Linked DNA regions of Homo sapiens: region 2 is linked to region 1. Evidence: fine-mapped expression QTL. Tissue or cell type: lung. Region 1 holds a variant in brackets; the other region holds the start of a gene. All regions are shown on one strand. Distances are from middle to middle. Region 1 overlaps NOL10 (nucleolar protein 10). Region 2 holds the start of NOL10 (nucleolar protein 10).

Evidence for each region. PIP is the estimated chance that this variant, and not a neighbour inherited with it, causes the effect.
Region 2: NOL10 starts here. The variant in region 1 is fine-mapped to the expression of NOL10 in lung (TOPMed, PIP 0.95).

What each region holds. Positions count from the first base shown.
Region 1 is chr2:10,652,380-10,655,286 of GRCh38, reverse strand. NOL10 (nucleolar protein 10) reads left to right here. Exons shown (of 21, transcript NM_024894.4): 12 at 740-806. Among named protein-coding and RNA genes, the nearest start is that of NOL10, 36 kb to the left of the region's middle. RefSeq lists an enhancer at 132-1,331. The variant C/T (reference allele first, on the strand shown) is at 1,481.
Region 2 is chr2:10,688,793-10,691,699 of GRCh38, reverse strand. NOL10 (nucleolar protein 10) reads left to right here and starts at 1,725. Exons shown (of 21, transcript NM_024894.4): 1 at 1,725-1,904. The coding sequence starts at 1,839. It also overlaps the pseudogene RN7SL832P. RefSeq lists enhancers at 1,879-2,158, 2,219-2,278.

The DNA.
Region 1 (2,907 bases):
TTTTCTTCCCTTCTTTCCCTTCTTTTCTTTCCTTTCTTCCTTCCTTCCTTTCTTTTCTTCCTTTCTTTCTTTTTTTTTTTGGGCAGAATCTCACTCTGTCGCCCCAGGCTGGAGTGCAGTGGTGCTATCTTGGCTGACTATAACCTCCGCCTCCTGGGTTCAAGCAGTTTTGCCTCAGCCTCCCTAGTAGCTGGGATTACAGTTGCAGGCCACGATGCCCGGCTAATTTTTGTGTTTTTAGTAGAGTCGGAGTTTCACCATGTTGGTCAGGCTGGTCTTAAACTCCTGACCTCAAGTCATCTCCACGCCTCAGCCTCCCAAAGTGCTGGTATTACAGGTGTGAGCCACTGCTCCCAGCTGTCTTCCGATTTCTTTCAATACAAGTTAAGCTGGGTACACTTCACAGATTATGAGAGATTTTTTTTTAAAGTTGATGCATAATTCAAACTTCATCTTTTCTTGCCATGTTGACATTATCTTTAAAATGTTGTAATTTTTCTTTTTTTTGGACAGGTCACTTCTTCTCCTTAGGCCTGTTTCTTCATCTATAAAATGGGATTTTTTGATAAATTGATAAGATAAATTCTCTAAGATTTTTAAGAATTTAAATTTTGTATTTGAAGTAGGCTATTTTATTTCTTTACATAGGAGTAGATGGTTGAGTTACAGCTTCAGTTTGACATTGCCAAAGTTGTTGTTCTTTAACTTTTAATACTTCGTTTTTGCTTGCTATTTTTAGGGAAAAATATTTACTTCCTTGGAGCCAGAGCATGACCTTAATGATGTTTGTCTCTACCCCAACTCAGGTATGCATTCTGTAGTGAACGTTCAGTGAGACAAATAAAAAGATGCATTCTGTAGTGAACGTTCAGTGAGACAAATAAAAAGGCTATACTTTTTTAGGTTTTAAACCCATTTTATTTCTTAAGATAGAATTTGGCTTTGTCAGCACAATTCTTGGATATTTAACTTACTTAGAAGAATTAAGAGCAGGAAGTGGTGTGGATGATTCAGAAAATGGCACTCTTAATGACTCAGTGCTCAGCCCGCCCAGCTATTAGTGGAACGTGGTAACAGCATACAGGTAGGAGGCAGGTGAAGTGCTATTTTAGTGTGCTCTTTAGCTCTTTTATGTGATTAGTAATAGTGTGTGGAAATTGAGGGTAGAGATTTGGAGAAAGCTAGATTGCCTGATAATACACAGATGGCTCATGAAGCCATAGGTTTTGTAAATTCTAAGTTGTATGCTATTCAGCAATTTACATGTTAGGTTTCAAAATTTAACAGTGCATTCAAGGCAAATCTGTGAAGAATTTCAGAGTATGGGAGAAAAATGAGAATAGTTTCTACTCTGAGGGCAGAGGTACCCAGATCATCTTGATAGAGAGAAGTAAGGCAGAGCGTGAGAACTCCTATCACATTTGTGCAAAGAGTACTTTGACAGCTTGCTGGAGAGAGAGAGCTTTTACCCTGTGACCAC[C/T]GAGAGCGGAGCAGTGAGAAGATTTTGCTTTGCGTTGAGCTGGAGTGCCGAGTGAGATTTGGTTAGGTGGAGTTGGGGGGCTGAGGTGATTCTCATGGGAGAGCAGTCCAAGATGACCAAAAAGGATGGGCACAGAGGGCTCGGTTGGGGTGGGGAGGAGTGTCCTGTGCCTGAGCTGTGGTGGCTCTGGGAAGGCTGAAGTGGGAGGCAGAGAGTGGTGGGTGGTAGAGGGTTGGGCATGATGTGCTAAATGTCTTGGGCTCCGTGTGCTGTCAGAGAGGACTTGTTCCGACTGTGCTTTCAGAGGCAGGTCTACCCACTGTGCAAAGGGTAGATTGGTTTTGGACAAAAGTGCCTTGGAAGTAACTGATATTCTGAGCTGAGATGGGGAGCACAGGTGAGAGAGCAAGTTTGGAAAGATTATGGCTTCTTTTTCTAACGTGTGAGGATTAGGAGGTGACAGGACAGTGGCAGTATCTGGCACTATCTGGCTTCCCATCAAAATCATCTGCACAGCTTTAAAGGTACAGCTCCCTTGACCTTATACTAGGTGTACTCACTCATAGTGTCTATGGAAAGGGCTTAGAAATGTGTGGTTTTTTTTTTTTTTTTGAGTTGGAGTCTCGCTCTGTCACCCAGGCTGGAGCGCAGTGGCACAATCTCTGCTCATTGCAACCTCTTCTCCTGGGTTCAAGCGATTCTCATGCCTCAGCCTCCTGAGTAGATGGGACTACAGGCACGCACCACCACGCCTGGCTGATTTTTGTATTTTTAGTAGAAACGGGGTTCCGCCATGTTGGCCAGGCTGGTCTTAAACTCCTGACCTCAAGTGATCCGCCTGCCTCCACTTCCCAAAATGCTGAGATTACAGATGTGAGCCGCCGCGCCTGGCCAGAAACGTGTGTTTTTAACACACTTCCCGGTGGATTCTTAGGCGGCAAGCCCTGAACCGATCCGCAGACTTGTGCTTGGGGGGCGTGTCTGGCGTCCAGTAGAAAATGTGGTCTTGGGGTAAGCAGGTCTGTAGATAGAAAGTTTTGCGATTATCCCAGAAGTGGTGGGAATGAATGAGATTACTGATAGGGAAAGCTGGGAGTGAGATAAGAAGTGAGCAGGAGCTGGTTCATTTGGGAGAATGAGGGGGAGGAGCCAGCTGAGAAACCGGATGGGAATGGACAGAACGACAGTGCCAGGCCCCACGGTTTTTGAAGTATGGAAGAGATTCAGTGGGCACTGCTTAGCAACTACTAAGGATTACAGAAGTTGGGGCAGGAAGGAAAGAACTAAGATTGATTGCATGCTGCTGTTATCAATCTGGATGATGGATGCTGTAATACAAACTTATTTAATATTTTATAACTGTGTAGTCAGTGGTCCATGGCTTTTTTTTTTCTTTTTTCTTTCTTTCTGTTTTTTTCTTACCTCTT
Region 2 (2,907 bases), 36 kb before region 1:
ACATGGTGGTCCCTGGCTCTTGTGGGGTCACCATATTGATGCCAAACTGAGGACACCCAACGCTCGTTGCGTGCTACAGCCAAGAACTCCTGGGCTCAAGTGATTCTCCTGCTTCGGCTTCACTAGTAGCTAGGACAATAGGCCTGCACCACCAAGCCAAGCCAGAGTCTGTGATCTAACCATTCTATTATGCCACCTTTCCCAAAGATGTTTACAGTTTTTCTTAACTGTAACCAGTGTAGAAAATTAAAAATTTGTGGAGGATCTTAAATTTGAGGACAGAGTTAAGGAATATATCCCTACGTACATGGCTAAATGTAAATATGTAGCAATGCCTAATAGAGGCCAGGCACTGTTCTGGTACTCTGGGTAGGGGTGGATGGGGTGGATAGGGAATATAAGGACAAATGATATAGGGTCCACGAAGAACTCTCAACCTAATTCTGATGCAATGTGGTGTTGGTATTTGAGAGTTTCCAAAATGTTGTGGGTAGGAGAGCAAAACAATAATATTTGGGTTTTAGAAAGTAAGGCATAAAATAATTTGTTCATTAAATCAAAGGAAGTAAGAAGATCACTTGGGAAAGTTATAATCCAAAAATAGTTAAGTATTTGAGTTTCAGCAGGAGGAATGAAAACAGATTACTTTAAGGAAATATTTCATAATTAGAAATATCCAGGTTTAGATACTGAAAGTGAGGGCCAGAGATAGGAATGGGTTGAAGATGACGCCACAGTCTTCTTTTTTTTTTTTTTTTTTTTTTGAGACGGAGTCTCACTCTGTTGCCCAGGCTGGACTGCAGTGGCACGATCTCAGCTGACGGCAACCTCTGCCTCCCGGGTTCAGGCGATTCCCCCACCTCAGCCTTCAGAGTAGCTGAGATTACAGGCGCGCGCCACCAGGCCCGACTGATTTTTGTATTTTTAGTAGAGACGGGGTTTCACCATCTTGGCTAGGCTGGTCTTGAACTCCTGACCTCAGGTGATCCGCCCGCCTCGGCCTCCCAAAGTGTTAGGATTACAGGCGTGAGCCACCGCACCCGGCCTACAGTACTTCTAACGTAACATCGCAGAAACACTGGAGGAGAGAAGAGAATACACTTCCACTCGGAATTCGCACCCTGGTCGCCTTCATTCGCTGGGTTCACTCGCTGAACTGCCTCGCCCCCGCCCGGGAGGATGACATCTCGGCCTGGGCAGAGACTCGAAAGCCTCCTCCTGCCGCTCGGGATGCTAACAGCAGGGAGAGCTGTGTCTAGTTTTTTTTTTTTTTTTTTTTTTTTTGAGAGGGAATCTCGCTCTGTCCCCCAGGCTGGAGTGCAGCGGCGCGATCTCAGCTCACTGCAACCTCCGCCTCCCAGGTTCAAGCAATTCTCCTGCCTCAACCTCCCGTGTAGCTGGGACTACAGATGCCGGCCACCACGCAAGGCTAATTTTTTTGTATTTTTAGTAGAGACGGGGTTTCACCATATTGGTCAGGCTGGTCTCGAACTCCCGACCTCAGGTGATCCGCCCGCCTCAGCCTCCCAAAGTGCTGGGATTACAGGCGTGAGCCACCGCGCCCGGCTTGTGTCTAGTCTTGCCCGTAGCAGCGTCGCCGACAGCCACGCCGGGTTGTCAGAGCCTCACTAGTTTTTCTCCCGGCCGCCGCTCTTCCCGGATTCAGCCACCTTCCCTCTTCCGGGAACTTGCCCGCGTGTTCCGGCTCCAGGAAGTGCGTCATCAGTCGGCGCCAGCGGCCGCACGCCGCGGAGCAGGGGCTCGGAGGTCCCGGGATTACGGTGCTCGAGCACGCTGGTGGGAAAGGACCCGGGACTTGAACAGTGTTGTGCGGCGCCATGCAGGTCTCCAGCCTCAATGAGGTGAAGATTTACAGCCTCAGCTGCGGCAAGTCCCTTCCTGAGGTGAGTCACTTCCCGGCCCCCTCACTCTCGAGCTCTTGGGGGTCGTCCTCCTCGTGGGGCAGCCGCCCCTCTCCTCGGCCCTAGCCTCTGTTTTAGCTGGACGCTGGTCACCCCCCGACTCGGGGAGGCCCAGAGGCGGCTGACAATTTCCGGGGGAGGTGTCGGCATTGGGAGACAAGGACACTGCCGTCACCGCGCCAGAAACTGGACCAAGGGATAATCAGGGTCAGTGAGCTTTGCTGGAACTTTTGTAAAGTTCTCTGTTCCAGAGAACGCAACCATTTGGGCCTCTTTGGGTGTTCACAGTCCCTGCCGTACATCGAGGAGGAAAACGTGGCAGATTCGTTGACACATCTCTCCCCCATATGGCCATCAGCTGTTTGTGGAGTCCCTATCATTTGCCAGGTCTTAGGGATACAACAGTGAACAAGGGAGATACAGACTTCGCATCTGCAGAATTTATGGTGTAGAGGACAGTATTTTCGAGACTTGTTGAACTTAACCTGATTCCTAGTCTTAAAGTTGGAGAGGGCTTGGACAAGTCGGTAATTCTCTTCCAATCTTCTCGTGTTTAGTAATGCAGCTGAGATTTAATAATGCGTTTAATATGCAGCTGAGATCCAGCAAGGGGAAGGGTGACTTGTCCAGCATGACACACTTAGGCTCTGAAACTTGTCTTTTGTTTCTTATACGTGATGATCCAGCCTCTGTCCAAGCACTACCACTGAGCACTACCTTTTGTGGAAGCTCATTTCCATTTTGAGACTCTGCACTTGTTAGAAAGTGGTTTTCAAATATGTCACCTTATAGCATGCCACTGTTGGCCTGAGTCCTGCCCTTGGAAAACAGAATAAATATAGCTCTCCTTCCATGCGTCTGCTTCTACAAAAATTTGGAGCCAGTGCTTAGGTTTTTCCTTTCTTCCTAAAATTCTGGTTTGAATAATTCCCTGTCTTCCAGTTGTTCTTCACACCCCATGAGCTTTCTCATTTTGTTCATTCAT